2 linked regions of the Homo sapiens genome follow. The protein of the gene in region 2 interacts with the protein of the main gene of each other region in a pairwise test. Each region holds a gene or a part of one and is shown on either strand. Other genes may lie near its edges. The genes, in order: ZSCAN1 and TBX20.

The links.
Region 1: the proteins of TBX20 (region 2) and ZSCAN1 interact in a two-hybrid assay, tested with the Homo sapiens proteins (one large-scale study listed by BioGRID and IntAct).

What each region holds. Positions count from the first base shown.
Region 1 is NC_000019.10:58,040,442-58,044,261, forward strand, and holds part of ZSCAN1 (zinc finger and SCAN domain-containing protein 1), read left to right. Parts: intron 1-8; coding exon 9-103; intron 104-3,820. UniProt on the Homo sapiens protein: May be involved in transcriptional regulation.
Region 2 is NC_000007.14:35,244,007-35,247,826, forward strand, and holds part of TBX20 (T-box transcription factor TBX20), read right to left. Parts: intron 3,159-3,820; exon of another isoform or gene 1,795-3,158; intron 1,052-1,794; coding exon 943-1,051; intron 1-942. UniProt on the Homo sapiens protein: Acts as a transcriptional activator and repressor required for cardiac development and may have key roles in the maintenance of functional and structural phenotypes in adult heart.

The sequences.
Region 1 (3,820 bases), on a different chromosome or scaffold from region 2:
CCGCACAGTTCTGGTATCTCTGGACTCGGTCGAACCCCAGGACTGGAGTTTCGGTGAGGAGGAAGATGGGAAGAGTCCAAGGTCCCAGAAAGAACCATCGCAGGTGAGCCCGGGGCCCCCAGCTCCGTGCTCCTGCACCCCAGGGCATGCGTGCCGCTTCTGGGACGGCCTCAAGGATGCCCCATCCAAGGACTGTGTGAGGTTGTCCCCAGCGCTCCCAGGAAGCCCGGCCTCCAAACTCCCCGCCTGCCCCACAGATTCCCCAAGCTTCCTGGGGCTCAGTGCTGGGCGAGGGCAGTCAGTGCAGCTGTGTGTTTGCTGTGTGCCTCTGGGCCTCACCCCAGCCCCTCCTGTCCTTTCCCAGCCTCGCAGTTAAGACCCATCCTCCTGTGTCACCCGCACCAGATGCTGCGTGTGTTGAGAAAGTCCTGCTGCCCCGATCATCTTCCCTCAGTGAACCCAGGATTCTGGGCGGGCCCAGAAGGAAATGCTGAGGGCTCCCCTGCAGCTAGACCTGCTGTTGCGCAGGCCTCAAGGCGACGGGAGGGGCCCGGCTCGGTTGGGAGCCAAGCGGATCTCTGTGTGGCTGGAGAGATTAAAATCAGGGGTGGGGACACGCAGACACATGAGAGAAATCCAGGGGTAATGGGTAAATCACAAAAGAACAAAAGTAAGAACTGCTAAGTGAGTAGCATGTGTTCGTATGATCAGGGCTACTGAGTTTGACCACTTTCTGCCTCTGGATCTTGGTATTGGAGCCGCCAAGGGAAACACAGCACGGTCGAACAATGAATGGAGCAAGGTTTTGCTCACAGACCAGAGACCGGGCCAGAGCACCATCTGCCCATGTGGCTGTCAGGCCGGGGCCAGCAGGTCCCTCCTAGAGGGGTCCTGACCTAACAGTGGGGCTGTCTAGGTGCCACGTGAAGCACACGCCTGAGCAGAACAAAGGGGCACACATTGGGAAACAGAGACCTCCACACGAGGCACTACACCCAGCACAAACTGGGGGGACCCCTTATCTCTTGGTAAGGAGATGTTCTAGGCCCAGGACCCACTCTCAGGCAGCCAAGTAACAGGCTGAAAGACTGCACATGTGTGTCTCCCACTGGCTTAGTCCGTTCTGGGTGCTGTAACAAAATACGGCTGGGTGTGGTGGCTCATCCCGGTAATCCCAGCACTTTGAGTGAGGCCTCACGGGAGGCTGAGGTGGGAGGACCACTTGGTCCCAGGAGTTCAAGAGCAGCCTGGGCAACATGGCAAGACCCCATGTCTTAAAAAAAAATGAGCCAGGTGTAGGGGTGTGCACCTGTAGTCTTAGCAACTCTGGAGGCTGAGGTAGGAGGATCACTTGAGCCCAGGAGTTCAAGGCTGTAGTAAGCTATGATCATGTTTCTACACTCCAGCCTGGATGACAGAGTGAGACCCTAACTCAAAAAACATCAACAGCCGGGCACAGTGGCTCACGCATGTAATCCCAGCACTTTGGGAGGCTGAGGCAGGCGGATCACAAGTTCAGGAGTTCAAGGAAGAAGGAAGTAACTTGTGGAATGCTGAGAAAGGTAAAAACACCTTCAAATAAGGAAGAGGAACAGGCTATGACCTAATGCTTGCTTGGACCAGTATAGGCACACCAGGGCAAATATTTAGGCTAAATTGTGGGAGCTAAGAACATAAAGTACATTGATTTTTTTTATTATGGCTAGCAGATATATAAGAATGTTAGCACAGGTCTTTGAATAAATTTTGCTTCTAAGAGAAGTTACTATTTATTCCTAATTAGATGGGGAGGAAAGTCTTTGAAGAGGAACTTCTACTTTACTTTTTTTTTTTTTTAATGGAGTCTTGCTCTGTAGCCCAGGCTGGAGTGCAGTGGCGCGATCTCGGCTCACTGCAAGCTCTGCCTCCCGGGTTCACGCCATTCTCCTGCCTCAGCCTCCGGAGTAGCTGGGACTACAGGCGCCCGCCACCTCCCCGGCTAATTTTTTTTGTATTTTTAGTAGAGACGGGGTTTCACCGTGTTCACCAGGATGGTCTCGATCTCCTGACCTCGTGATCCACCCGCCTCGGCCTCCTGAAGTGCGTGAGCCATCGCGCCCGGCCCTAAAATAGATTTAAAGATCATCATGAGAGCCCCTCTCCTGCACCAAAACAAAGTTTCGTGGGCCGTGGTTTCTGTTTCTGCATCTAACGGAGGCATCTAACCTGGGTAGACCACAGTTGTTGGCCACGGGCTTCCTCAGCCGCTGCCGGCAGATGTGCTTATCTGACTCCCTCTCCCATCCCAGACGCCACGTGGAAACCACAGCCGCGCTCACAGGCCATCCCCTCACCACACGGCAACTCCAAGGACTCTCTTTTTGCGGGGGTCGTAGGTGGGGAAGGCTGCTGAGGTCCTCCCACCCCTCTCCCACCAGGGCCGCTGTGGCTGAGAGGATCCTCGTTGGCGCTGGTTTAGGCTGTGGGGCTCAGCCACAGCAGGGTGCCCCAACGTCCCTGAGCGAGCTGCACTTGTGGAGGGAGAGGCCTTAGGCCTGAGGCCTGGCGCCCGCGTGGAGAGACGGCAGCTCCGGGATCGGGGCGCTGGTGAGCGCGGCCCCAGGCATTGCCGCTGCCAGGGTGCTAACACTGCCTGAGGCACCTCTGCTTTTGAAGTCGCCGGGGATTAGCGGGAGCGTAGGTGAGGGACAGGTGGAGCTGCTCTGCGCGGGGCAGCCCGGCTCGCCAGGAGGCGCTGTGGAGTGGGCACGACTGGCGATCGCTGAGCGCATACAACCGCCTACCATCGGAAGCCTTTTGAGAAATGCTTCCTTAGGCGGTTTCGTCACCGTGCATACATCGCAGAGGGCACTCACACACCTACACGCACAGCCCATGGCTCCTAGGCTACAGACCTGCACAGCACGGGGCTGCACTGAATACTGTGGGCAACGGTAACACAATGTTGTTTGTGGATTTAAACATAGAAAAGGTACAGTAAAAATACAAAATAGAAGATAAAAAACAGTACACTTGTATAAAGCACTTGCCAGGAAGGGAGCTTGTGAGACTGGAAGTTGCTCTGGGTGAGTCTGAGTGGTGAGTGAATGTGAAGGCCTGGGAGGTTATTGTGCTGTGGACTTCATAAACATGGTGCACTTAGGCTACTAAATTGGCAACTATATTTCCTTCTTCAATATAATTTATCTTACTGTAAGTTTTTGCTTTACATTTTTTTTTTCTTTCTTAGACTGACTCTCACTCTGTCACCCAGGCTGGAGTGCAGTGGCACGATCATGGCTCACCGCAACCTCAACCTTCTGGGCTCATGCGATCTTCCTACCTGAGTCTTCTGAGTAGCTGGGAACACAGGCACACATTACCGCACCGGCTAATTTTTATATGTTTTAAAATTTTTTTAGTTTTTGTGTAGATGGGGTTTCACTATGTTGCCCAGGCTGGTCTCAAACTCCTAGGCTCAAGCGATCCTCCCTCCTCAGCCACCCAAAGTGCTGGAATTACAGGCGTGAGCCACTGTGCCTGGCGTAAAAAACTTTCTGACTCTTGGGGCCGGGCGCGGTGGCTCACGCCTGTAATCCCAGCACTTTGGGAGGCCGCGGCGGGCGGATCACTAGAGGTCAGGCCTTCGAGACCAGCGTGGCCAACATGGTGGAACCTCGTCTCTACTAAAAATACAAAAAAATAGCTGGGCGTGGTGGTGTGCACCTGTAAGTCCAGCTACTCCGGAAGCTGAGGCAGGAGAATCGCTTGGATCCAGGAGGCGGAGGCTGCAGTGAGCCGAGATCACGCCATTGCACTCCAGCCCGAGCAACAGGAGCGA
Region 2 (3,820 bases):
CACTTCCTCTAAATTGCATAGATTTGATCCTTACACATTGTATATATGTATCCAAATATCACATGTACCCCATAAATATGTACAATTATTATGTATCAATTAAAAATTATTAAAAGAAGAAAAAAATTATGGAAGTCCATCTAAAGTTTTCTTAGCATAAAATCTAAGACAGAATTTTTATGTGTATCTTTATTTAACAGCATGAAGTAACATCCCAGCAATGCCTTAAAAAGGCATTTTATCAAATATGTAAGGACCTGCATCATTGACTATTTGTTCTATTAAACTACTGATAAGAACACAGAGTTAATTTTTCTTTTTTCCACATTTTCATAAACTTTATACTGACACAAAATCAAATTGTTTTGTTTTTAATTACAGGGCTTCTTTATGCTTTAATATTCATGAAACTCTCCAAAAAAAAATGGTTACATAATGAGTAAACAGCACTTTCCCAAACTGATTTGGACATAAAATCCTTTTGTTATTTCATCTCACATACATATGTTCTATAGACTACACTTTGGGAAACCCCCATCAGAGGTCCTAGCCCTATTCTCTCTAAGTTTTATTATCTGCTATGCTGCTGACAGAAATTAGATGCTTAACCCAACAACAGGCTGTAGCAGCCTCCAAAAATGTATATTCCCTTAGTTTAGTTGGCTCGGGTGGTACAGCAATTTCAGAAGCCTTAGGAATTCCATGGAACAGAAGATCCCTGACCTTCTTGCATAGAAATGGCACACAGCATTCCCGTAAATGACCTATTACAAAATCAGTCAAGGTCCCCTGAAGAACACATAAATGTTCCCATAAAATGACTCAGAGATAGAAGGTGGGAAGGGGATAGGGAAGGCAGGAAGGGACTCAGAGAGAGACAGTTTTGTGCGACCTGTCCATTCTACCTCAGGGAACCTGCACAGTCCAAGGCATGGTACTTACATGGCCATGTTGATCCAGTTCATTGTTGGTGAGTTTCACCTTTTCAAAAGACACCATCTGTTTGAGTAGTTGCTCACCGGTAAAAGGAGAATCTGGATGCACATAGAGCCTAAGAAAATTAGGAGAAAACTTTATTGAGACTTCTTTAAAAAGTCTGTCTCTGTAGGTTATAAAATGTTCTAATTCTAAGGGAACACATAAACCATATATAAGTGGGAAATTTTATTGCCCTATATACCTCAAATTTATTACTATTGCAATGTCAAAACAACTGAAAAATGTCTAATTATTTCTTCATGTACCAATTATCTAAATGAGATAATACTTAACAAATTTTCTATTAAAAGCTGAGCAAGGCATTGTTTAAAGGGGTGTGTGTGTGTGTGTGTGTGTGTGTGTGTTTTCATCTATCTAGTCAACTACTGGTCTGCTTCGATCAAACGCAAAATCTTCTTGTTGAAGGTGCTTTCAAAAGAAAAACTAGCTTACACTAATCGCATGAGTTCCTATTATAAACATCTCTTAAATAACAGTGAAAACATAAATAATTTAAAAGAGAAAATAATTTTAGAGAATCCATTTATTTAAACTTAAAGTTTTAAAGTTTGTGTTCTTTGTAAATATAAGATGGAGCAATTTTAATATAGGGACATGGAGAACTCCCAGTAGTCCACCGATCAGCTAGGATTCTGTTCTTCCTGTTACATTAAACACTACTGCTTTCATCATTATCTGTTTATGTGCTCACTAAATGAGAGTTAAAACAAGCTAGACACACTTCACATTATTCAATTTATTTATCTGTAAACAGTGTAAGCCAAAAAAAAGCTCTCACATCTTTTACGCACTCACAGTTAAATGCAGGTCACTTTTTCTACCTGTGACAACGCCTTAAATGCAGCTCTTTGTAAGTCCCCATCCTGGTATCTTCTTGACTTAAGTCTTTCTGAAGTCAGAGAGAGACTACAGAACTAATGAAGGGGAAGCAAAATCCTTGATTTAATAGGACAAATTCCTTTATCCACGTAAAAGGTTATTTACACCTAAATTTTATATAGGATCCTTATAACTACAATTAAACATAAATATTTTTACTAGGGCAAAAGCAAGGGATAAGAAGTCATAAAATTTTTCTTGCATTATTCATGTAAAGAACAAGAAATCTGTTCCATGGTTTGTCACACAGAGGACTACGAATAGAAGAATTCTGTACAAATGCTGAAACTTACAAAGCCCACCAGGAGCAATGCACAAAAAAGGTTGACAGCACCAAAGACTCTTACCAGACCTACAGAGGAACTGTAAAGGCTTCAGGCATTTGTCTGCCTGTTAATTCCACTGTTTTTAGGAGGATTGCTCACAGTTGCCTTTCAATTATTCTTTGATAACACAACCACTTTTCAAGTACCATCCTTCCAAGACTGTAGCTTTATAGGTGCAATTGTTTTACTGATCAGAACCACATTCCTCCCTCTAAAAAAGTCCAAAATTATTTAAAGTCCTAAAGTTGATGAAATGTTCCCTCTCTAAGGATCACATTCACCACATGTAATGGCTATTAATAAAATATTAATGTAATTAAATATTATGTACTTTAAAGAAAAGGAGATGTCCTATATGAAAAGGTAACATTATTTTAGATCATAAGTAATATCTTGCTTATTATTACAATCAAGTGATACTGTCAAGCATTATTTCTTCCGATTAGGAATGACTGACCAATGAACTTCAGCCTGAACTAAAATGCTTCAAAGTCCTAAAACCATGGGAAATTTTTGCCATCAGTATAAAAATTATCATCTCCCAAGTTCTTCGTTTTTCTCTTATGGAGATAGATAAGTAGCAAACTATTTATTTTAATAATAATAAAGAATAGTTGCTAAATTATCTATTTTTTATCCCATAATAAGCTAAACATTTTTATTTAATATCAATCTAAAAAAGCTGAACTAGGATTAATGAAAAAATATACAGGAAGCCCCTCCTCTCAAGTCCCCCAGAGACTTAAAATTCCAGCAATAGCTTAAACATGCTTCAGTTAAGATAGTGTATTGGTACACACTTTTTTTCTCCAACCAGAACAGATTAGTAACATAAACAAGGCATGTCATATTTCCAAAGTCCTGCTGGCCTGCATCAGCTCCCCATACCTTCAGATAGGAAGAAAATGTATGTTTAATAAGAGTGATTAACTTCTTAGAGGAAAGACTGGAGGGCAAAAAAAAAAAAAAAAAAAAAGAGGGTTTGCTTGTAGAAAATGGTTAGGAATCTGCCAAAATACTCTCTCAGGTTTAAAACGGTATTGAAAAGTTTGGAAGGTAGCTAAAGAATAATAGTAAACTATTTAACAGTAAATAGAAGAGAACACTAATTTTATTAATTTTAATATCTATTATAAACTGGTGAATCTTGCTCAACTAAAAAAAAACTAATAGCAATTGTTTTTTAGATTTTCTTAGTCTTGACTGTTATTTAATATACTGATTTGAAAGGGCTGGGAAGACGCCCTTTCTGGTCTCTTCCGAGAATGGAAAACTCTGAGAGATTGCTTTTAATCTCTTTTCTAGTGCACTTAGCATACGATAAACTCAATAATATAATAAACTACTAATTAAGCTGAATATTCTATCTGAACCATATGTGTAATTGTCTGTTGATTCTCTGCCTTGACTATGACTCCAGACTAGACACAAAGTACCAGCCGTAACTTAACAGTTCCCAAATCTGTACATTTAAATAAGTTCTTAGCTCTGATACAAACTTTCAATCAATCACAAAAAATTAGTCATTAAACAACAAAAATTAGTCATTAAACATAAACAACAAAAATTAGTCATTAAAGAAAAGCTATGAGGCTGGGTTTTAAAATCCCAAACAT